Homo sapiens: one gene and its partner. The protein of the gene in region 2 purifies or fractionates together with the protein of the main gene of each other region. This does not show direct contact. Each region holds a gene or a part of one and is shown on either strand. Other genes may lie near its edges.

Region 1 (12,944 bases), on a different chromosome or scaffold from region 2:
TTACTATCATCTGTCAGGCTCAGCTATCATCTGTCTTTTTGATTTATAACCATCCTAGTGACTGTGACATATCTCACTGTGGTCTGGTTTGTATTTCCTTGGTGACTAATGATGTTGAACAGATTTTATGTACTTACTAGATATTTGCATATCTCCTTTGGAGTAATGGCTACAGATTCTTTGCCATTTTTAAATTGGGTTGCCTGTCTATTGCTGAGTTCTAAGAGTTCTTAATAGAGAATATATAAAGAATTTTCTAACTAGCACTCTAGGTTTTTACTTTCTTGATAGTATCCTTTGAAATACAAATGTTTTAACTTTTGGTGAATTCCAAAATTTTCTTTTCTTCTGTTGCTTATGCTTTTGAAGTCATATCTAGGAAACCACCAAGCTCATGGTCTTAAAGATTCACTTTTGTTTCTTTCTAAAGGTTTTATAGTTTTGGCTCTTACATTTAGGTCTTTTATACATTTCAGTTATTTTTTTTTATATGGCATGAACCTTCTCCTAGTGAATTTAAGTAATGTTGATGAATAAAACAAGCACTGCAGCAAAACATGTGAATGAGATCTGAAAAATGGAATGAAGTCCAGCCCTTACTATCATATAAATCCCAAATTAAGTATGAAAATGTGCTTTTTGTGCAGTAAGGTCTGCAACATTTCAATTTTCACTGACAGCTTAAAGATAGAATTAGTCTAAGAATGACACAAACCAGAACCTGCATTGCTTCCCATTAATTCAACAGTCATTAAAAGGGATAGAAAAATTCTCAAGTACTAACATGCAGATGATAAATATAGCTTACTATAATAAGCTTACTTAATGGAACAATTCAGTATGGTTTAGCCATTAAAACTTAAACTATAAAGAGAAAAACTCACCTCTCTTGAATTCCATGTTACTTCAAATATACTCTAGACCATAAAATATTAAGTAAAAAGAAAAATAAACTACATTATTCTTCACAAATTGCCTTTTAAAAACTTTAAATAACAGCAAAATGTAACTTTTTTCAACACTGAAATACTTATGTTCTGGAAAAGACTTCATACTGACAGCGTACTGATACTGTTAGAAGCAAAGTTAAAAAAATAATTGCCAAGAATTCACAATGCCACCTTACCTGCTTGCACTTCTAGAACGTCTGGCTGTGCTGTAACTTTTTGGTGGTGTTTTAGAACGTTTCTTTTCTTTGTCTTCTTTCTTTTTGTCTCTAACAAATGAACACAATTTATGAATGCATTAGAAGACTCAGCTGATGCCAATTTATATAGCACTACAAACACAAAAATATAATCAGATCTAATCCCATCCTTAAAAGCATAAATGTTGTTCTGACAGAAACTGTTTTAAAAATAATACTTTATGTGGCATATTTGAAGTACAATAACTTCTTTTAAAATCCTATTATCCTAGGTTTTCTCCCAAGTAGACTAAAGTAGACTATGGGTGAGAAAATAACTAGGATGTTGGCTTGAAATATACTTGGTAAACACCAATAAGTTAACTATCTCTAGGCTCCTCAAGACTCCTTTTTCTCTCAGCTGATTACCACTTTCCCAACCCACCTCTCCTATCAGGCCAAAACCCATAGAGCACTACCAAAATCCATCAATATCATGAATATTCTTCCAAGACACACATCCCATGTCAACCTCTATCATGGATCAAGCAAGCTTCTTTTTCTGCGGCTATTATGAACTATTCAGGGCTTATTAGAAAATATCAACAGATTTTGACTACAGCCGTAACTCAATTTTTTTTTTTTACAGATTCCTATAAATTTTTACTCCTCACAATATTTTTTCCCCAAGATCATCATTCTCCCCAAGACTCTAAGCAAAGAGTAGATAAACGATATATATTTGTTGAATGAGAAGTCTCATAACAACCCCCCTCTTTAACTATTCTCTAATTTTAAGAATCAAAGTATCCCTCTCTTACTGTTCTAAGCTAATCTTTCCATTCTGCATTCTCAATTTCATTTTTTTCCCTTCTCTGGTCATCCTCGGTTCCCTCTTCATTCAATCTTTATCATTGGTTCCCTCTTCATTTGAATCTTTATCATCTAACTCCTAGATTACTAGAACAGTCCCCTAGTAGGTCCCAGTCATGCCTTCCATAAACTGATTCTGTACTCTGTCAGAAATCTTTTAAAGTACAAACCTGAAAATATTAATTCCCTGTTCACCATTTTCAACTCATTCCAGTTGCCTCCTGGATCAAGTGCATAGTGTGAACAACAAAGCCTTCCACGATCGGTCTCATTATATTTTTCTGACCTCATTTTCTAGTCCAACTACATCAAAATATTGTTATTTCAAGAAACACCATTCTCCACCTGAAAGCATGCCTCCCGTTGAGTCTAGTCAAATCTTTCAGAATTTAATACTCGAGTCATTCTCAAACCTCTTCCAATATCAGCAAGTAGCAATCATCATTTAACAGTTCCTCCCCTGTAATTAAATCCATCACTCTTCTCCTAGTAATCAGAAAGTCCTTAAAGAAATGCTTAATTCCTTTGTATAACTGTTCTATTAATCTACCTTGTTTGATTCACTCTGCAGCACATAAGGACTAAAAGCCCCATTATTACAGGTTTAACAATGATAGTAAAGCTACCCCCACTCTTCTGTTCTCATCAGTTGAGTTTTATGCTTCCCAAGAGTAAGTTATGTTGTGTCCCCAGCTGTACTTACTTTAATGACATGATTTAACTAAATATATAAATGAACAAAATAATGCCAAATATAGAGTTGCTTCTAGAAAATTAAGATAAATATTTTAGCAAGAGATAAAAAGCAGTTGCTAAAAAAATTAAGTGCTGTGAAATTGTATGCCTCACAACTATAAATGACTGGGGGCATACTAATTTAAAAGTGTTTGGTTCTACACGAAAAGACTGGTTTTTGAATATATTTTTAGATGGAAATAAAACGTTACGGTATTTCTTATGAAAGAAGGTAGCAGGACAGCTAACAATTCCTACTACTAAGAAATTTTACTTAGGCCCTCAGCTGTAAGCTGAAGTTTCAGTTTACAAGGAAGCACCAGAAAGCAAACGTCAGCCTCCTCAAACTCAAATATTGACAGTTTCTTCCCCTGTCTAGCCCTATTTCTCTGCCCCGCACCCCAACCACCTCTTTTGTTACTAAGTAGCACAGTACTAGGGGTACTGGGAACCCTAAAATTTGCTTTCTCACCCAATGCTATACCTTGTTTTTGATGTGCTCCTTGACCTTCTACCTCTTTCTCTGGAATGAGATCTTCTCCGCCTTGGGCTTTTGGATCGTCGCCGACTCCTAGACTTAGAATGTGACCGCCGTCTCGATCTGCTTCTTGACCGCCTAATAGTGTAAAAGGAAGCCAATACATGTGTATAAATGTAAAAAGACTATAAATTTTGTGCTTAGTATCAGACAAAAGATTCGGACATATGGACTAAACAATTAAATGGGGGATAATTCCCTTCCATTTGCTATTATTTAGCCCATAGAACAAACACCTTCAACACCTTAGAAATTAGTAATACCTTTTAACACTTGGAATTCCTCACCTTTTAATGATTTGCTCAACCTGTCAGATAGGTCCTTCTATGCCCACTGTACTTACAACTCCAAGGTTAAAAATACTACTAGATCATGAAGGAGAATAAAAGTATGACTTATTTGCATCATCTTATACAATTATATAGCATTTTAGCATGTATTTCTTATTTGATTCCTCATTAGTGCAGCTTAAACCTTCCTCATCATAAATCAAATACTTATATCACGCTATATATAAACTACAAATTGGTCTCGTAAGTCCATAAAGTAAATGCCACTATTATTTCTATTTTATAAAGAGAAACTACTTATTGTGTTGCCATCTCCTATTTCGAATTTTTCTCTGAAACAAATTCCACTCCTTTAATCCACAATTTAGGAAACTCCAGGCAATGCAGACCTTTTACAGATATATACAATTTGTATAAACTGCCTCTTTTACTCTCATTTTTCCCTGACATATCTGTTTCTCTACTCCCTGCACCGAGCCCCCATCCATTGTGTCCTGACCTGGCTCTTCCAGGACTAAGAAGCACAATTAACCTTTAGATGTTGTCATCCTCCCTACTGCATTAAAACTCATTCTCCTCTATCTTTTAAGCGATGGGGTTTTGCCATGTTGCCCAGGATGGTCTTGAACTCCTGGGCTCAAGCCACCAGCCCACCTTGGCCTCCCAGAGTTGGGATTATAGGCATTAACCACCACAACCGGCCCATTCTCTTCTATTTTAAAAATTAAAAATAAGTTGCAATCCTTTGCTTAGTCTTGATCACTTAACTTTTAGTGACCATTCAACTTCTCTCTGTGCAACATTTCAAATATAGTCTAAATTTTCTGCCTACTTTTCTTTTCAAGGTACAAGAAAGAGTATGGACATCTTAAAGACTTGTGTTAAACTCTCATTTATAAGCCAGGTAACTTAAGAGTATTATCTAACCTCTCTGACCTTGTTACTTCAGCAGTCAAGGATAGTAACACCTCTATCACCAAATAATGACAAAGATTAAATGCAGTATATAGAGTCTAGCTCGGTGCCTTAGTGTAGGCACACACAAGTGACCCTTGAATAACATGAGCTTTAACGGCATGGTTCCACCTACACACTGTGTTTTTTTTTTTTTTTTTTTTTTTTTTTTTTTTTTTTTGCCACCAACCAAATGTGGATTAAAAACAGTATTTGAAGGATGAGGAACCCATGTATAGTCAGGACTGAGTTTTCCTATATGTGGATTCCAGAGGACTTGAGTATGCATGGATTCTGGTATAGATGGATTTGTAACCAATCCCCTGCATATACGGAGGGGACTGTACATTAAATATTGATGTCCTTCTTTCCTCTTACTGATGTACTAATATAGCTTCTGTTGCCATAACTCCCTAAAACAACTGCCTCAAAACCCATAGTAATGCCTCAATAAACTATTTGAGTTATTGAACTCAATTAACTTTAATTTTAATCTCTTATTTTCAGCCATATTTGAAACTATTTACTAAACAATTCCTTGCAATAACATCTCCACATCCTAAGATGTTTTTATCTACTTAACTACCCTACCATAGGCTCCACAAAGACATGGGAAGTAAGTCTTTTCATGACTGTATTCTTGAGCAATTACTACACTGCCTGATTTAAATAAAAGGCACCAATAATATACTTTGAATGAAATATAGGCATATAAAATATCAGAATCATAACCTTAAGAGATTAAACAGTTGTTTTCAAAGGGGAATGTACTACCGTCACTTTTCTACACTTACTAGTTCATATGAGCTTTTAACCAGCAAAAGAGATTAGTGTAACATATTTTTAATAAAGTCAAAAAGCTTGTGAAAGTCATGGTCATTTAACACACTATGTGATGCTTGATACTACAACTGGGCTGGACTCAGTGGCTTGTATCTGTCACCCCAGCACTTTGGGAGGCCGAGGTGGGCAAACAGCTCGAGCTCAGGAGTTCGAGACCAGCCTGGGCAACATGGCAAAACCCTGTCTCTACATAAAAAAAAAAGGTGCAAAAATTAGCCAGGTGTGGTGGTGCATGCCTGTAGTCCCAGCTGCTCAGGAGGCTGAGGTGGGAGGATGGCTTGAGCCTGGTGGGGGTGTGGGGTGTGGGGGGTGTGTGTGTGTGGTGAGGGTTACCACAACCCACAACAATGATTTCTGTTACGATGTATTACAAGTATCTGGATTCAGGGACATATTTCACTTCTACTTTTCACTGGTCATAGTAAAGTAATTAATATTAAAATGAGAGAGTCCCAGTAAGATTTAATATAAAGAAAAAGACACAGGCTCTCCCTTTTTTTTTTTTTTTTAAGACGGAGTCTCGCTGTCACCAAGCTGGAGTGCAGTGGCGCCATCCTGGCTCACTGCAATCCCCGCCTCCGGGGTTCAAGCGATTCTCCTGCTTCAGCCTCCTGAGTAGCTGGGATTACAGCTGCGCGCGCCACCACACCCAGCTGATTTTTGTGTTTTTAGGAGAGACGGGGTTTCACTATGTTGGCCAGGCTGGTCTCAATCTCCTGACCTTGTGATCCTCCGCCTCGGCCTCCCCAAGTGCTGGGACTACAGGCGTGAGCCACCCCACCCGGCCCAGGCTCTCCTTTTTCCTAAGAGTTTGGTAAAAGGAAACACATATAAATTGTAGTAATCATGAGGTATATCCTATTGCAGAGGTTAAACTAAACTATGAGAGCACTGTCATGGAAGATTAAGACTGCAAGCATTGTATCTTGAAGAAAGAAAAAGGAGTTCCTCAAAGCGGAAATGGAAGATGTGGAAAAGCATTAGGCAGAAAGGATCATGAGCAGAAACATGAAGACATAAAGAAAATGGTATGTTGAGGCAATTAGTCCTGTAACTTTTGGAGTGGCAAATGACACGTGTAAAAAGATAAACCAGACGGAATAGTAAAGAACCCTGAAAGCCATTCTAAGGTTTTATGTATCACCTTATCAAGGCAATAAGGAACTTCTCAGTATCTGTGACATGATCTGTATTTGGGTTTCTGAAAGACAACTCTAAGAATAAGACAGTGGGATAAGGTGGGTGACAGGGAATAAACAGACATAGCATACAGGATAACCCCTGTAATACTTCAAGAAATGACTTAAAATAAGAAAATGATATTAAAAGATAAAAACAGAGTGAAAAGATCATCTCTGAGACAGAAATGTGACTTTTTAGATATTTTATGATATAAGTGCTTTTAATAGAGACGTGACAAAGTCTAGGATTCAAGTCACACTGCTCTTTCAAAAATCCTGACAATAAATAGGAGAAATGGTTTTATCTAACCCTTGGTAAAAACTAAGGGGTAACGGACACTAAGAAAAGGCAGACAACTGACAGAACTAGGTTCCAGAAGAGATGAAGCCAGGAGTGAAGGTTTAAGAGTCAAGTGGTGAATGGCCGGGCATGGTGGCTCACACCTGTAATCCCAGCACTTTGGGAGGCCAAGGTGGGTGGATCACCTGAGGTCGCGGGTTTGAGATGAGCCTGACCAACATGGAAAAACCCAGTCTCTACTAAAAATACAAAATCAGCCAGGCATGGTGGCACACACCTGTAATCCCAGCTATTCGGGAGGCTGAGGCAGAATTGCTTGAACTCAGGAGGCGGAAGTTGTGGTGAGCCAAGATCGTGCCATTGCACTCCAGGCTGGGCAACAAGAGTGAGACTCCGTCTCAAAAAAAAAAAAAAAAAAAAAAGTCCAGTGATGGAGGGGTATGTAAAGTGAAGCTGAAACTGGCTGAAGTAAATAACCACAACTGGAATATCCTAGTTCTGAATGTCAATCCTAAAGGGTTCTGACTAGAAGAACTAGGATGCAACTAGGCCAATTAGGATTGAGTTTGGAAATTAAGAAAATCGAAGAATGGCTGAAATAGTTGGTGAATAACCTAGAGCAATGGCTTTTATATTGTCGTTTGCACAACTGTGGATGCTCTAAGACCCTTTTATGGGGTCCATAAGGTCAAAATTATTTTCAAAGTAATAACAAATTATTGCCTTTTCCACTGTGTTGACGTTTGCACCAATGTCACAAAAGCCATAGTGGGTAAAAATACTGACTCTTCAACACAAATCAAGGTAGGGGCTATTGAACTGCCCTAGGAGTCACTCACTATCTTCTTCACTGGCATTTCTGTATGCACTTGCAGTAAAAGAAAAAAATAATGCCACTTTTATAAAGATGTCTTTGATGAAGCAGTAAAGTTAATTTTATTAAATCCCCCTTCAGTACTATTAATATAGTAGCAGAATTAAATCTAGTCTCTTGAGTAATATTCTGTGTGATGAAATGGAAAGTATGCATAAATCACTTCTGATGCTTATGAAGTATAATGGCTGTATTAAGGAAGACACCTGTGTTGAGTTATGAGCTGAACTAACTGCTTTTTCATTATCACCTTTGAGAATCTAGAAACTATGATTAATTAGACTTGGGTATTTGGCAGACAATTTTTTGAAAAATAAATGAAGTCTATTATATAAGGAAAATAGATGAATCTGTTGCCAATGATAAAAATCTGAGAAAATTAAATTTTGGAAAATGACTCCATTGTTGTGAGCATGCCAGATTCCTAGTACTTGCATTTTACTGATCTGATCTAAGGTGATATTACCAGATGTCACTTTTTGACACTAGATAACAAATACAAGTCAGTATTTGGAAACTTGTATAATTCAATGAATCAATTATTTTTCATTTTGTTGCTCTAGTTCCAATGCTTTCCTACCACCTCTGAATTTTTGGGGGTTTTAAAGCATAAATCATCTATTTCGTCTGTCGCTTTTCTTACTTTTTACATGTGTGAACAGTCATTCACACATTCTAACAGCAGAGGTTACTAAAACACTTTAACCAGAGGATAACAGATTAACAGCAAATTAAAAAAGATGTGACATATATAAATTATCTTTGTCTAAGGTATAATTGACTAAAAAGCAATCTAACCTGTGTCTAGAAGATGAGGGAGTCCTCCTCCTCCTAGAACGTGATCTTGATCTTGAATGCCTTCTTTTTTCTTCTTTCTTATCTATATTTAAAAGAAAAGGAACCTGCATTTAGAAGTTATTAAATAGGGGCCAGACGCAGTGGCTCATGCCTGTAATCACAGCACTATGAGAGGCTGAAGTGGGAGCAACACTTCAGTCCAGGAGTTCAAGACCAGCCTGGGCAATATAGTGAGGCCTCATCTCTACAAAAAATACAAAAATTAGCTGGGCATGGCGGTGTGTGCCTGTGGTCCCAGGTACTTGGGGAGGCTGAGCTGGGAGGATTGCTTGAGCCTGGAGATGGACGGTGCAGTGAGCTGTGATTGCACCACTGCACTCCAGCCTCGGCAACAGAGTGAGACCCCTCAAAAACAAAAACAAGCAAACAAAAAAACACATCAAATAGGAAGATTATTCCCTTTCAGAAGTTATTCTAATAATTTTTCACCTTAGTTTTCAGCTTTTACATACAACCCTTGAATGTCACAAGTAACCATTTTATAATCACGATTTTGAAGCTTACTGAAATACTATAAATTGCAAATCATCCAAGCTTTTGGTAGATCCAAATTAGACTTCTAATTCTCAGCTAGCTAAAGGTTCCTTTGCCTATTTTACTTGCCAGACTTAAGAGGCTGTGAAGTGTTTTCTGTAAAGCAGTCTATAAAGAGGGTAAATTTCTCATTCTCTGGCTCTGATTTACTCTTGACAAGGTTCTAAATGAGGGGTCCCCTTTCCTTTCCTTGATTCTTCACAGACTCAATATTTGGCCCCCAAATGCAGAAAGTCATGATTCACTCACTGATTTTAGTCCACTTCTGTGACAGAATCAGATTTTAGTAAGCTAGCTCGCTTCCTATTATCTGCTCATCACTCCTCTTCCCTACCAATTTTCAATTGTGTAAATATAGAAAGGAAATCTAGAACTACACATAAGAAATTCCTTAACTGGGGACATAACAAGAGAAATAAAGTCATTGTATTCTACATTCACTGACTATCATCAAAGTGAGATTGAGTTTCTTTTACATTTAAGTCATTTCATTAATAGGGTTCAATTTATTGTGAATGTCATTATAATAAATTCATAAAAATATTGGTAAAAACATCAGTTCATAAAGAAACTACATTCAGTCACTTTAATCATATATTTTCAATATAAACAGCAGTTAGAACACGGTGTGTCATAAACTTTACATACACCCGGCTGTGCTATCTAAAAGTTCCTACTGCTTGCCATGTAACTGTGGCTAATTATTTGACATTTTCCTGGTTAAATAACATAATACATATAAAGCATTTGGTATCAGTTTATCCACTATTATACTTTAAAATTATTTTCCTAACAATAGGCACATTAAAAAACATTCCCATTTATTAATGAACAAGATATTTATAAGAAAGAAAATCCAGGGCCATAGATCTAAATATATATGGGCAGATAATATGATATCTATTCATTTACTCTCAAAAAGACAATCTGCAAAGAAGACAACTAATTTTCTTTAAAGAAATATCATTTTAAACAGAAGCATTTTCACTAGGTTCTCTTGATCAATGAAAAAAATTAAAATTAGGCTATCCCAACTTAGAAAAACATAAATAATAAGAAAAACAAAATATCGTTTCAAGTATTAGATAATCCTACTGACATTTTGGACTAGATTAACCACTGCTGTGGAAGGCTGTGCTGTTTGTTGCAGGATATCTAGCAACATGTTGGTCCTTTGCCCTCTAGATGCAGTTGGTACTCCTGTGACCACCAGAATTGTCTCCAAATACGTCTGAGTGGCACTCCACTATACAATCTTTTATCAGAGTTTACAACATTTTAAACGACTAGGGTGTCACTCAACACAATTCCACATTTATGTCAAAATCATTTTTGCTAAGAATCACACAACAAAATTGCATAAACATTGTTTACCTGGTTCTATAGCAGCAGAAATTAGGGACTGTGCTTCTCGTACTCTTTTCATAGCTTCCTCTATTTCTTTACTAGAGGTATCCGATTTCAGACTTGGTGAAACGAGACCAGCAGCTACATGATTCAACCTGAAACAGAACCAAGAAATGGGATCTGAAATATTTTAAAATGCACACGAGCATTTCAAATAAATACTTAAGTATATAACATTATTTTAGCAAAATATTCCTTCAAAAAAAGGGAGGGGAGGACTCCATGATAACTTTGGTAAACAACATATAGCATAGCACTGTTTTGAATATTTACAAGTATTTGTTTTAATGACTAAGAGTCATCTGGAATTAGAAAAATACCTATTTTGCTGAACATCCATTAACTTTCCATAAACAAACACATTTTTAGAAATGCCAGTACAAGAAAATATGCTGATGCTAAGAACTTTTATTCATATAAATTAAAAATTTTTGGGCCGGTGTGGTGGCTCACGCCTGTAATCCCAGCCCCTTGGGAGGCCAAGGCAGGTGGATCACGAGGTCAGGAGATCGAGATCATACTGGCTAACACGGTGAAATCCCATCTCTACTCAAAATACAAAAAACTAGCCAGGCATGGTGGCAGGCGCCTGTAGTCCCAGCTATTCGGGAGGCTGAGACAGCAGAATTGCTTGAACCCGGGAGGCAGACATCGCGCCACTGCACTCCAGCCTGGGCGACAGAGTGAGATTTCGTCTCAAAAAAAAAAAAAAAAAAAAAAAAAAAAATTTATGACATAGTAATTTTTTGGGGAAGAGCATTACCTTTTACTTTGTAGGTGGGGAGGAACTGAGGCAGAGGCCAAAGGCCTACCAAAATTACACATGAAGTCTTGAGTGGAAAGGCTAAAGATGCCCCTTACAGGTTTACACATGTAAAAAAAAAATTGTAGGCCGGGCATGGTGGCTCATGCCTGTAAGCCCAGCACTTTGGGAAGCCTTGGCGGGTGGATCATGAGGTCAGGAGATTGAGGCCATCCTGGCTAACACGGTGAAACCCCGTCTCTACTAAAAGTACAAAAAATTAGCCGGATGTGGTGGCTTGTGCCCATAGTCCCAGCTACTTGGGAGGCTAAGGCAAAAGAATTGCTTGAATCTGGGAGGCGGAGGTTGCAGTGAGCTGAGTTTGCGCCACTGCACTCCAGGTTGGGCAACAGAGTGAGACTCGTCTCAAAAAAAAAAAAAAAAAGAAAAAGAAAGAAGAAAGAAAAAAAAATTATAGACAACAAATTTAGTAGTTATTTGTGGGCAGAACAGGAAATGTAATAAATAATGGGTATATAGGAAGCTTCAACTGTATTGGTATTATTTTATTTTATAAGCTGGGTGATGGGTACATGCTTGGTTTTATTTTTAGATAATTTCTAAGAAAAAAGTCCACTAACTACTGAAGTCCAACGATTCTGTCCTTTTCATGCTCTCTCACTTACTGATAGTGACTTTCACCAAGTTAAGGGGAAAAGGTATAAAGTTCAAATTTATTATGCCAACAAATAACCAGTGAAAAAAACTGATGAATCTGTCACATCATCAAGTCGGAAACAATTTCTGTGACAGCATGAAGAGCACTTATCAAAAGCACCTAAAATAAAATGTTGGCTATTAATTATATAATATGTAATACTACTTTGCTCTGGGATAGTGATTCCCTCAGCTTTGCCTCTAACTCCTACTATCCTCAGGACTCAGCCTCTGATCTTCAAACGAAGTTGTCCCTTATTAGCTCTTTTGCTATCATCCAGGTATAAGTCATTTACAATTACTATTCAAGACTCAAATGACACTGAAACAAAATAGTTTAGAGGACCTTACTTACTTCTGTATTTCTCTCCTTGTTTCTAGGTAACAATACATATTGCTTGTCTTGAGAAAAGATAACTTGATAACTTTCTTATAAGCTATCAAAAAAACTCTAATTCTGTAGACATTCAGATACCACATCACCAATGAAAACAAAGAAAAAACGCTTACTTGGGATCAACAGTACTCATAAGCTTCAGCAACTGATCTGCAGCAAGAGACTGTAAAAATAAAACATAAGAATAATGAGAATACATAAAACAATAAATGACCGATATTTTCTAGGCAGAAAACTGAACAACAGAAATCCATGCAGACTACATGCCATGAAACATAAATTTTTTAGTAGCCACATTAAAAAAGAAAAAACAAAAACAAAAAACAAAACAAAACAAAACAAAAACCGGTGACATCAGTAGCTACAGTATTGGATAGAGCAGCTTTAGCAAGTTATCTAAAGATTATGAGGCTGAACAGTCTAGGTATTATAGAATTATGTCTCCTTTAAGACTTTTTGACATAAAGAAACATGTAAAACTCAAAACACCTTAGCCAATATAATGCAAAAGACCTCTACAAAGAACTTCAGAAAAAAAGGTTAGCTAAATTAAAATAAAAGAAAAATTTCCATG
Region 2 (12,944 bases):
GCTGGGATTACAGGCATGCGCCATCACGCCTGGCTAATTTTTGTATTTTTAGTAGTGACGGGGTTTTACCATGTTGGTCAGGCTGGTCTCGAACTCCTGACCTCAGATGATCCACCTGCCTTGGCCTCCCAAAGTGGTGAGATTACAGGCACGAGCCACTGTGCCCAGCCTTAAGTCGAAATTTATACAAATTTTTTGGAAGGCAATTGATAATGTTTATATGGTAAGACTGCACTTTGTATGTAAAAACAGATATTGCGTATAGATGTGCAACTTCTTTTAGAAAATTTTCCCACAGGGGTAAATATTATTTAATCTTCCTTTTTTATCTTTCACATCTGGTTATTTTAAAATAAAGCTTACAGCATTAAAAAGAAAAAAATTTGTTGGCATAGAAACAAGTTTGTTTTGATTTTTGAGACAGAGTCTTGCTCTGTCACCCAGGCTGGAGTACAGTGGCCCAATCTCGGCTCACTGCAAGCTCTGCCTCCCGGGTTCACACCATTCTCCTGGCTTAGCCTCCCAAGTAGCTGGGACTACAGGCGCCTGCCACCACGCCTAGCTAATCTTTTTTTTTTTTTTGTATTTTTAGTAGAGACAGGGTTTCACCATGTTAGCCAGGATAGCTTTGATCTCCTGACCTCATGATCCACCCGCCTCGGCCTCCCAAAGTGCTGGGATTACAGGCGTGAGCCACCGTGCCTGGCCCATAGAAACAAGTTTGATGGCCAGGCACGGTGGCTCACACCTGTAATCTCAGCACTTTGGGGGTCCGAGGCAGGGGGATCACAAGGTCAGGAGTTCAAGACCAGCCTGGCCAACACAGTGAAACCCCATCTCTACTAAAAATACAAAAATTAGCTGGGCATGGTGGCGCATGCCTATAGTCCCAACTACTTGGGAGGCTGAGGCAGGAGAATTGCTTGAACTCAGGAGCCGAGAATGTGCCACTGCACTCCAGCCTGGGCAACAGAGACAGACAGAAAGAAAGACAGAAAGAAAGACAGACAGAAAAGAAAGAAAGAAAGAGAAAGAAAGAAAGAAAGAGGGAAAGAAAGAAAAGAAAGAAAGAAAGACAAAAAGAAAGAAAGAAAATTATTTTTAAGTTAATAAACATACGCCAGCATCTTTTTCTTTTTCATCCTCCTTGTCATCTTTGTCTTTTTTCTTCTCTTTAGAACTTTCCCCACCATCAGTTTTCTCTTTGGACCTAGATCTACCAAAAAAATAAAAGAGACAAGAGAAATGTCATTCATTTGTACTTAGAAACATTCATTTTTAAATACTTTTTTTTTTTTTTTTGAGACAGTGTCTCACTCTGTCGCCCAGACTGGAGTGGAGTGAAATGGTGCGATCTCAGCTCACTGCAACCTCCACCTCCCGGGTTCAAGCGATTCTCCTGTCACAGACTCCCGAATAGCTGAGATTACAGGTGCCAGCCACCACACTCATATAATTTTTGTATTTTTAGTAGAGACAGGTTTTCACCATGTTGGCCAGGCTGGTCCTGAACTTCTAACCTCAGGTGATCTGCCCACCTCAGCCTCTCAATGTGCTGGGATTATAGGCATGAGCCACCTCGCCCGGCCTTAAAATACTTTTACAGGTGGGGTAAGGTGCCTCACACTTATATACCCAGCACTTTGGGAAGCCAAGGCAGGAGGATCAATTGAAAACAGGAGTTAAAGAGATCAGCCAGGGGAACATAACAAGATCCAATCTTTCCAAAATATACTAAGAATTAGCTGGGTATGGTGGTGTGCACCTGCAGTCCTACCTACTGAGGAGGCAGAAACAAGACGATCACTTGAGCCCAGTAGTTCGAGGCTGCAGTCAGCTATGATCCCATCACTGCACTCAAGCTTGGGTGACAAAGTGAGACCCTGTCTCTTTTTAAAAAAAAAAAAAAAAAAAAAAAATTTGGTCAGGCATAGTGGCTCATGCCTGTAAGCTCAGTATTTTGGGAGGCCAAGGCAGGAAGATCACTTGAGCCCAGGAGTTCGAGACCAGCCAGGATAATACAGTGAGACCTCGTCTCTATTAAATTAAAACAAAAAATACATAAGTACACTTATTAGACTTGTATTCCAATATTTAGGTAAGAAATAAACTTCTAAGAGTCAACTGTGTTTTCATATTCCATTAACAAACACCTGGAGGCTGGGCATGGTGGCTCATGCCTCTAATCTCAGCACTTTGAGAGGCCAAGGCAGGCAGATCACGAGGTCAGGAGATCGAGACCATCCTGGCCAATATGGTGAAACCCCAACTCGGCCGGGCGCGGTGGCTCACGCCTGTAATCCCAGCACTCTGTGAGGCCGAGGCAGGTGGATCACATGAGGTTAGGAGTTCTAGACCAGCCTGACCAACATGGTGAAACCCTGTCTCTACTAAAAGTACAAAAATTAGCCGGGCTTGGTGGCAGGCGCCTGTAATCCCAGCTACTCAGGGGTGGGAGGCCGAGGCAGGAGAATCACTTGAACTCGGGAGGCGGAGGTTGCAGTGAGCCGAGATTGCACCATTGCCCACCAGCCTGGGAGACAAGAGCAAAACTTCACCTCAAAAAAAAAAAAAAAACAAACAAAAAAAACAAACCCCGTCTCTACTAAAAAATACAAAAATCAGCTGGGTATGGTGGCACGTGCCTGTAATCTCAGCTATTCAGGAGGCTGAGGCAGGAGAATAGCCTGAACCAGGGAGTCAGAGGTTGCAATGAGCTGATATTGCACAACTACATTCCAGCCTGACGACAGAGCAAGATTCTGCCTCAAAAAAAAAAAAAAAAAAAAAACCTTGAAAATATAACGAAAAAAATTAATCCCATGACACTAATGGGAAGCATTACTAAATATTTGGAAATTCAACCCAAGAAAAACTGAACATACTACATACAAACAATATAGTTTGTTTATAGGTAGGATAGTTAAAATGTGATAAATGAAGAAACAGACCAATATATTAATATTCTGCAAGATAATTTATATATGTAATAACGTTTAAAATCCCAAGGGACATGCATTTCGAATGTTCTAATGTTCTAATGATTTTAGGGGATTTTTTTGAGACGGAGTCTCTCTCTGTCGGCCAGGCTGGAGTGCAGTGGCGCAATCTCGGCTCACTGCAACCTCCACCTCCCGGCTTCAAGTGATTCTCCTGCCTCAGCCTCCCGAGTAGCTGGGATCACAGGTGTGTGCCACCACACCTGACTAATTTTTTACTTTTAGTAAAGACGAGGTTTCACCATGTTGGTCAGACTGGTCTCAAACTCCTGACCTCGTGATCCATCCACCTCGGCCTCCCAAAGTGCTAGGATTACAGGCGTGAGCCACTTCACCCAGACTTCTAATGATTTTTTAATGTTAAAATAACCTGCCATTCTTGGAATAAACCCAACTTGTTTACGCACCCCAACTTACGGCATCTCATAATGAATAAAATTTCTTAATTTTAATGTAATCAAATTAGTCAACCTTTTTTCTCCTTTATAATTGGTGCTTTTTAAAGTAGTTTAGAAATCCTTCCAGATTTGATGTAAGATACCTAGAGGTGAAGAAGAAGATACTCTCTGGCACAAACTTCTAAAAGGTTTAGAATTTTGCCATCTAATTTGGTCTTTGCTTGGAATTGCTTTTTGTACACAGAATAAGGTAGGCAGTCTTATTTCATAAAAGGATACTAGATATCCCTAGAGCAATTTAAAAATTTTTCTGGCCAGGCACGGTGGCTCACGCCTTTAATCCCAGCACTTTGGGAGGCCGAGGCGGGTGGATCACGAGATCAGGAGATCGAGACCATTCTGGCTAACACGGTGAAACCCCATCTCTACTAAAAAATACAAAAAATTAGCTGGGCATGTTGGCACACACCTGCAGTCCCAGCTACTCGGGAGGCTGAGGCAAGAGAATTACTTGAACCCGGGAGGCGAAGGTTGCAGTGAGCCGAGATTGCACCACTGCATTCCAGCCAGGGCAACAGAACGAGACTTTGGCTGTTAAAAAAAAAAAAAAAATCTTCACTTATTACATCATCACCTCTGTCATCTATCAAATTACCATGTGTATGGATGCCTTTCTGGGCTCTTTACATGGTTCACTAATCTGTCTGTCCACTGCTAAACAAATTGCACATTGTCTTAATTTCTGTTAACTTTTTTTTGTTTTTTTTTTTTGAGAAGGAGTTTCACTCTTGTTGCCCAGGCTGGAGTGCAACGGCATGATCTCACCTCACCGCAACCTCTGCCTCCTGGGTTCAAGCGATTCTCCGGCCTCAGCCTCCAGAGTAGCTGGGATTACAGGCATACGCCACCACGCCCAGCTAATTTTGTATTTTTAGTAGAGACGGGGTTTATCCACAATGGTCAGGCTGGTCGCCAACTCCCAACCTCAGGTGATCCGCCCACCTTGGCCTCCCAAAGTGCAAGGATTACAGGCGTCAGCCACCGCGCCTGGCCTAATTTCTTAACTTTTAAGACAAGTCTTGGCTGGGCGCGGTGGCTCAGGCCTGTAATCCCAGCACTTTGGGAAGCCGAGGTGGGCAGATCACTTGAGGTCAGGAGTTCGAGACCAGCCTGGCAAACATGCCAAAACCCCATCTCCACTAAAAACATAAAAATTAGCTGGGATATTATGTCTGCCTCTTCATATAATCCCAGGACTTTTGGAGGCCTAGGTGAGAGGATTGCTTGAGTCTACAAGTTTAAGGTTAGTGAGCTATGTTCTTGCCACTTCACTCCAGCCTGGGCAACAGAGTGAGACCCTGCCTGAAAAGAAAATGACAGAGTTTCTACAAAGATGTCTATAAAATACATTTCTGATTGACAGTTATGTATTAAGTAAGAATACAATGTATTGAATGTTAAAACTGACAGAATCTATTATTTTCCAGTTGAATTATAAACATTATAGCCAATTAAAATAAAACACTGCCAACAGTTCATGGTAGGAGCCAAATGCAGTTAATTCTCTATAAATACAAACTTACAGGGAAAAAAAAAAAAGGCGCAGAGAAGGGAAGCAGTCCCCAGTCTGCACTATAGATGCAGCCCAATGATAACATTACCTATTCTCAGTTTTCTTGCTTTTATTTCCAGGACTGGAGGATCGGGATCGCCGGCCCCGGCTTCTACTCCTTGAGCGTCTCCTGTCTCTACTTCGAGATCTTCTTCGCTCTCGGCTTCTGTCTCTCTCTCTACTTCTGGAACGTCTGAAAGGGGGACACTTTTCATTTATTCTATGACCAAATGGAGCTACTATTTCAGATCAGGGGATTCTGTCCCACATTGAAAGAATCTTAATCACTACCATTATTAAAGGTGGAGGTCTCAATGAAGTAAAGCCAAGTCTTATAAGTGCTCAACGAAAAAAATGAGAATACTAATTTATTTCTTTCATTTTTTTAAAGACAAAGTCTCACACCTGTCACCCAGGCTGGAGTGCAGTGGCACAATTGCAGCTCACTGCAACCTCTGCCTTCTGGGTTCAAGTGATTCTCCTGCCTCAGCCTCCCCAGCAGCTGGGATTACAGATGTGCATCACCATGCCCGGCTAATTTTTTTTTTTTTTTTGGAGACAGAGTTTTGCTCTTGTTGCCCAGGCTGGAGTGCAATGGCGCAATCTCAGCTCACCACAACCTCCATCTCCTGGGTTAAAGCGATTCTCTTGCCTCAGCCTCCTGAGTAGCTGGGATTACAGGCATGCACCACCATGCCCAGCCAATTTTGTATTTTTACAGATGGGGTTTCTCCATGTTGGTCAGGCTGGTCTCGAACTCCCAACCGCAGGTGATCTGCCTGCCTCAGCCTCCCAAAGTGCTGGGATTACAGGCGTGAGCCACCATGCCAGGCCAGAGAATACTAATTTCATAAAGATGTTTGTGAAAAAACCATAATAAGTCTGTAATTAACATCGATTGAAAATCGATGGTCTAAGATAGAATATCTAGTTTCAGATAGCCTAAACCTAAGTATAAGGATGGGCATAATGGGTCTACTAAAAGATCACTAATCTGAAGATGAAGAGGCAAGAATTTCTATCCTGCTACTCCTGGTAACTAATGACATGATGAAGGTCAGATCTCCAACTTTCTGGGTCTCAGTTTCATCATCTATAAAATATGGAGACTTCACTAGACATCTTTAAAATCCCTCTTGCTCTAAAATCTTGTGATTCTACTTTCACACCCAAAAGTCAAAGACCAAATGTTAAATAACCATTTTCACTTAAGTACTTGAATTAATTGTGTGAAATTGTTCCTAGGACCACAAAATGTGAAAATGCTATCCACATTGTCACGGGTGAATATTTTCCCTGAATCCTACGTAACAACAATGTACTCCAATGTCTGAAAAGGATAAAGTTAAATTCTTTCTATGATCCACTCACAACACAATCTTGTCTTCCTTTCCTATTTTAATGAGAAACTGGGCAAGGTATGGTATCTCATACCTGTAGTCCCAACCCTTTGGGAGGCCACTAGCAACACAGTTAAGACCCCCATCTCTATGAAAAGCTTTTTTTAATTGGCTGGGTGTGGTGTGCACAGAAGATTATTTTCTTTTTTTCTGTTTTGAGATGGAGTCCTGATCTGTCGCCCAGGCTGGAGTACAGTGGCACCATGTCGGCTCACTACAACCTCCACCTCCCAGGTTCAAGCAAGTCTCCTGCCTCAGCTTCCCGAGCAGCTGGGTTTACAGGCATGCACCACCACACCTGGCTAATTTTTTTTTTTTTTTTTTTTTTAGTAGAGACGGGGTTTCACCATGTTGGCCAGGCTGGTCTCAAACTCCTGACCTCGTGATTCACCCACCTTGGCCTCCCAAAGTGCTGGGATTACAGGCATGAGCCACCATACCTGGCCAACTTTGTCACTATTAAAAATACAAAAATTATCCAGGCTTTGTGGAGCATGCCTGTAATCCCAGTTACTCAAGAGGCTGAGGCATGAGAATCACTTGAACCCGGGAGGCAGAGGTTCCAGTGAGCCTAGATCGTGCCACTGCACTCCAGCCTGGGTGACAGAGTGAGACTCTGTCTCAAAAAAAAAATAAATTAAAAAAAAAAAAAAGATTAAGGCGCTCTTTAGTTTAAATCTATGACAGCTCATTAAAATAGTTTAAGAGGCTTGGAGAGGGTCTGCTTTGTTTCCTTTTTCTGCCTGCTTTAGAGGCTGCTCTAAACACACTGTTTAGCAAAATGAAGAAAGAAAGAGAAAGAGAGAAAGAGTGAGGGAGGAAGGGAGAGAGAGTGGAAGGGAAGGAGATAGGGAGGAAGGAAGAGAGAGATGGAGGAAGGGAGGGAGGGAAGGAGGGAGAGAGGAAGGAAATTTTACAAATTTCAACAAGGGTGGCAAAAAAAAAAGGAAAGAAAATTAACACCTTGGTCAGCTCTCCTGGAGCAGAATTGGAATAGAACCCTCTTGAATATAACTTATTACTTTACTTTTTACTTCATTTTGTATGTCCCTCAGAGGGCTTCAAGGGATGTCTTTGGGTTACAGGAAATACAGCCTAAAGTTTCCAAACTAAAAACACTGTTTGATGGTCGGACACGGTGGCTCACACATGTAATCCCAGCACTTTGGGAGGCCAAGGTGGGAGGATCACATGAGGCCAGGAGATCGAGAGCAGCCTGGCCAACATGGCAAAACACCGTCTCTTTTAAAGACACAAAAATTAGACAGGTGTGGTGGTGCACATCTGAAATCCCAGCTACTTGGCAGGCTTAGGCATGAGAATCGCTTGAACCCAGGAGGTGGAGGTTGCAGTGAGCAGAGATGATACCACTGCACTCCAGTCTGAGCAACAGAGTGAGGCTCTGTCTCAAAAAAGATTAAAAAAAAAAAAAAACACTGTTTGATAGAGTCTTTGTAGGCACATCCTTCTGGGTCTAATCAAACAAGTAGGGGATAAAGAAAAGGGCCTGCAATTGGGCCACCAAACTCCAGTTGAAAACATACTTTTCAAGAAGCCTGCTATAGCCGAGAAGGCCCAATTTATCACTCGTCTTTTGGAAATTAATTAATGTCTTACCTCAGACGCTTCCTGTCCCTTGACCGAGATCTTCTTTTATCCCTGCTACGAGACCTCTCTCTCCTCCTATCTCTATCTCTACTTCTAGACCGTCTGTCATCTCCACGTTTACTTCTTTTGTCTGAGGGTGAGCGACTTCTAGACCGACTTCCAGAGCGACCCCGGGATGCCGATCGTTTTCGATAGTGGCTAGAACAATAAGTCAAAGATTAAGTTCAGCAAACACCATTAGCTTCTATTACATTTTATTACATTTTTTCTAAAAATAATTTCAGCAGACAAATTTAACACTCAAAGAACTTTTTATGAATTTTTCTAAAATTAGGAGGGAAAAAATGAACCCTTCTGCTTCAGCACAGACACATGTAGAGGTGGAAAATCTGTCTTGAAAGAGAGGCAAGGACAGTGAACAAAACAGACCAAGCTCCTGCCTTTGAGCTCCAGGCAGCTTACACTCCGGTAAAGGAAAAGACGGCAGACAAGTGAAGAAACAAACACTGTATATAGTATGTTTATATACAATATAAATATGACATTTGTTACAGAGGCTTGGAGGAAATAAAGGAGCCATGTAGATATACAGGGAATTTTCCACGCAAAAGGCACAAGTGCAAAGTCCCTAAAGAGGAAGCTTGACTGGTGAGTTTAAGGAACAGCAAGGATGCCAGTTGTGGCTAGTGTTGAAAGAGTGACACAGCGTGCCATAAGACGAGGTCAGAAAAACAGCAGGGAAGCCAAACCTGGAAGGCCTTACTGGCCATTATATAAGGACTCTGTCTTTTACACCAAGATGAAAATCTACTGGAAGACTTTAAGCAGAGGAGTGACACAACCTCATTAATGTTTTTATTTTTATTTTTAGAAACAGGCCTCACTCTATTATCCAGGATAGAGTGCAGTGATGTGCTCACAGTTCACTGCAACTTCAACTCTCTGAGGCTCAAGCAATCCTCCCACTTCAGCCTCCCAAGAAGCCGGAACTTCAGGCATGCGTCACCACACTTAGCTAATTATTATTATTATTTTTTTTTTTTGAGAAAGAGTCTGGCTCTGTTGCCTAGGCTGGAGTGCAGTGGCACAATCTCAGCTCACTGCAAGCTCCACCTCCCGGGTTCACACCATTCTCCTGCCTCAGCCTCCCGAGTAGCTAGGACTATAGGCGTCCGCCATTACGCCAGGCTAAATTTTTTTTGCATTTTTAGAAGAGATGGGGTTTCACCATGTTAGCCAGGATGGTCTCGATCTCCTGACCTCGTGATCCACCTGCCTCAGCCTCCCAAAGTGCTGGGATTACAGGCTTGGGCCACTGCGCCCGGCCACTCAGCTAATTATTTTTATTTTATTTTATTTATTTTTTTTGAGACAGAGTCGCACTCTTGTTGCCCAGGCTGGAATGCAATAGCACCATCTCAGCTCACTGCAACCTCTGCCTCCCAGGTTCAAGCAATCCTCCTACCTCAGCCTCCCAAGCAGCTGGGATTACAGGCCTATACTACCACGCCCAGCCAGTTTCGTATCTTTAGTAGATGAGGCAGTTTCACCACATTGGTCAGGCTGGTCTGGAACTCCTGACCTCAGGTGATCTACCTGCCTCAGCCTCCCAAAGTGCTGGGATGGATTACAGGCATGAGCCACCGCATGCAGCCTTTTTATCATTTTTTTAAATTTCTTTTTTGAGACAAGGTCTCACTCTGTCACCCAGGCTGGAATGCAGCAGCTCAATTGCTACTCACTGTAACCTCAACCTACTGGGCCCCAGCAATCCTTCCACCTCAATCTCCAGAGTAGCTGAGACCAAAGGCACACACCACCGCGCCCACCAATTTTTTTTTTTTTTTTTTTTGGGTAGAGATGGTGTCTCACTATGTTGCTCAGGATTGTCTTAACCTCCCGGCCTCAAGCATCTTCCCACCTCAGCCTCCCAAGTAGCTGGGACCAAAAGCATAAAAGCGTGTGCCACTATGCCCACCTATTTATTTCTTTTTATTTTTCATTTTTGTAGAGATGGAGTCTTGCTATGTTGCTCAGGATGGTCTCAAACTCCTGGGCTCAAGCAATCCTTCCACTTAATGTAATCCCAAAATGCTGGGATTACAGGTGTGAGCCACTGCACCTGGCCTAATGTTTTTAAAGTATTATTCTGGTTGCTGAGAGAACAAACCAAACAAAGGGAGGCAAGGACAAAAGGAGAAAGAATAGGCAGGATTAGCAAAGACCAGCACTATAGCAATCATCCAGGCATGAGATAGTGGTGGCATAGATCAAAATGGAAGGTGGAAAGATTTTGAGAAATATCAAAATCTGGATATCTTGAAGCTAGCACCGATGGGATTTAATGATGAACTAAATGTCAAGTGTGACAGCAAGAGAGAAATCACTCAGTTGCCATTTACCAAGATGGGAAGGCTGAGGGAGAAATCCAGGGAGAAGGTGGATCAGAATATTAGGTATCCAAGTGGAGATATATAGTATATAGTTGAAATATTAGCCTGTAGTTCAAGGAAGAGGTTTCTCTAGAAATATAAACTGGACAGCTATTAGTGTACAAAGGCTATTTAAAGCTATAAACCTAAATAAGATCACTAGGAGATGAATGCACCTGATTATCTCTCAAGCACCTCAAGTTCAATCTGTAGAAACCCAAACTTGTTACCCTTCCCTCCCCAAACGATTAATCGTACCAACTTCCGGTCACTAGGCTCAAAACATTAGTCATCATCAATATTTTTCTCTTGCTCTCATTCGATACAATAAATAAAACACCAATTGGCTGGGCACAGCGGCTCATGCCTGTAATCCCAGCATTTTGGCAGGCCAAGGTGGGCAGAGAGCTTGACCTCAGGAGTTGAGACCAGCCTGGGCAACATGGTGAAACCCTGTCTCTACAAAAAATACAAAAATTAGCAAAGCGTGGTGGCACACGCTTGCAGTCCCAGCTATTCGGGAGGCTGAGGTGGGAGGATCTCTTGAACCTGGGAAGCATAGGTTGCAGTGAGCCAAGATTGTTTCAATGCACTCCAGCCTGGGAGACAGAGCAAGTCCCTGTCTCAAAAACAAAAAAACAGGCCGGGTGCGGTGGCTCACGCCTGTAATCCCAGAACTTTGGGAGGCCGAGGCGGGTGGATCACAAGGTCAGGAGATCGAGACCACCCTGGCTAACACGGTGAAACCCCGTCTCTACTAAAAAATACAAAAATTAGCCTGACGCGGTGGCAGGCGCCTGTAGTTCCAGCTACTCGGGAGGCTGAGGCAGGAGAATGGCGTGAACCCTGGAGGCGGAGCTTGCAGTGAGCCGAGATCCCACCACTGCACTCCAGCCTGGCGAAAGAGCGAGACTCTGTCTCAAAAACAAAAACAAAAACAAAAAAACAACCAAGTAATACCAATTTCACCTCTGTAATTCCCTTCACATTATATCACCTCCACAGAGTTCCAACCGTCACTATTCTATATCAGACATATCTACCTAGGAGATTCTTAAAGACTGTAGTCTTCCTGTTTCTATTACTTTTCCATTAAATCTTACTCATTGCTGCTAAGGAGAATTCTGATTCTATTACACACTTTTTACTCAAAATCTTCAAAGGTTCACAAACAAATTCTGATCTTCAAAATCTACAATCCACCCGCTTTCTGGGCCCAAGTCCTATTCAGGACCTACCTCCTACTACTTCTCAAAAAAGATAAAATCCCTTCATGAAACCTACATATGCAGAAAAATTGGGCTTTTTAGCTATTTCTCTAACACCTTGCGCCTTCCCACCTCTAAGCCTTTCATGATTCCCTGAACAAACCTAGAGCACAGGCCATGCACACCAGAGAGGTAAAGGAGAAGGCTGACGGGCTAGAATGGACCTTCTTGTGAAGGGCCTTGAAGGCTGTCATAGAGTTTAAATTTCATCTTGGAAGCAGTAGAAACCAATGGAGACTAAGTCAGGGGCATGCCATCATCTTATCTCTACTTCAGAAGTGTCACTCTGGCTGTAGTGTAAGGGATCTAACAATTAGGAGAGCAACAGAGGAAGACAATCAATTCAGAGAATCAATTTAAAACAGATGTAGTAGTCTGGACAATAAATAATTAGGGCCTCAATTAAGTCAGGGACAACCAGAATGGGCAAAGGATGTAGAATCTAACAGGCTGTGGGTAGTGAGAGAGAAGAATGAGTCAAATAAATATCACTTTCAGATTTCTGGTCTGGACAGCCTTCCGGAGATTTAAAACACCGTCACAGGAATTTTCTGTAGTTAAAGAAATATTTTTTATCTTCATCCAGGTGATGATTACACGGTTTATATATTTGCTAAATTTCATCAAGCTTTACCCTTACGTTTTGTCCATTTCCCTGATTGTTAATTGTACCTCAACAAAGAACTGTTAGCACTAACAACAAAAGCCTTCATTGTTCCTAGACATAAAATATCTTTCAGTCATTGCTAAATACATAGCAAATAGTCATTTTTAACATAAAAATCTCAAGGTTCCTAACAATCTATCAACAATCTAAAGTTGTGATGAGATCTAATGAGTTCTAATAAGAGCTCATAGTCCACAACTTCAAAAGGACAGAAAAGCAGGTAACAAAGTTACCTGCTTAAATACGAAATCTATTTGCGAAGTAAATGCCCACGCAACAAGTATTTATTGTAGCCCAGTAAAAGCCTAGTCGTGTATAGTGCTGTCGATGCGGTAAAAATGTCTGCCCACACGCTCCTTTCAAGTAACTTGGGAAAAGATCATACGCGCACAAAGAACTAAAATACAGAATGACAGGAGTCGAGGAAATGTTGGAAACGCGAAGCAATAAGCAATCCAACTGGGATCACTTCTGACTGAAGTAATCAGGGCAGGCTCCCTTGAAGTGGCGGGATGTGGTGCCCAATCACTAACGTCCTGGAGGGTTGTTCCCGCTCCAGG

The links.
Region 1: the proteins of DDX46 (region 2) and SRSF11 fractionate together in Homo sapiens (co-fractionation; 2 studies listed by BioGRID). This does not show direct contact.

What each region holds. Positions count from the first base shown.
Region 1 is NC_000001.11:70,235,090-70,248,033, reverse strand, and holds part of SRSF11 (serine/arginine-rich splicing factor 11), read right to left. Parts: intron 12,534-12,944; coding exon 12,484-12,533; intron 10,610-12,483; coding exon 10,482-10,609; intron 8,596-10,481; coding exon 8,514-8,595; intron 3,351-8,513; coding exon 3,219-3,350; intron 1,217-3,218; coding exon 1,127-1,216; intron 918-1,126; coding exon of another isoform or gene 902-917; exon of another isoform or gene 885-901; intron 1-884. UniProt on the Homo sapiens protein: May function in pre-mRNA splicing.
Region 2 is NC_000005.10:134,759,175-134,772,118, reverse strand, and holds part of DDX46 (probable ATP-dependent RNA helicase DDX46), read right to left. Parts: intron 8,216-12,944; coding exon 8,027-8,215; intron 5,203-8,026; coding exon 5,059-5,202; intron 1,217-5,058; coding exon 1,120-1,216; intron 1-1,119. UniProt on the Homo sapiens protein: Component of the 17S U2 SnRNP complex of the spliceosome, a large ribonucleoprotein complex that removes introns from transcribed pre-mRNAs.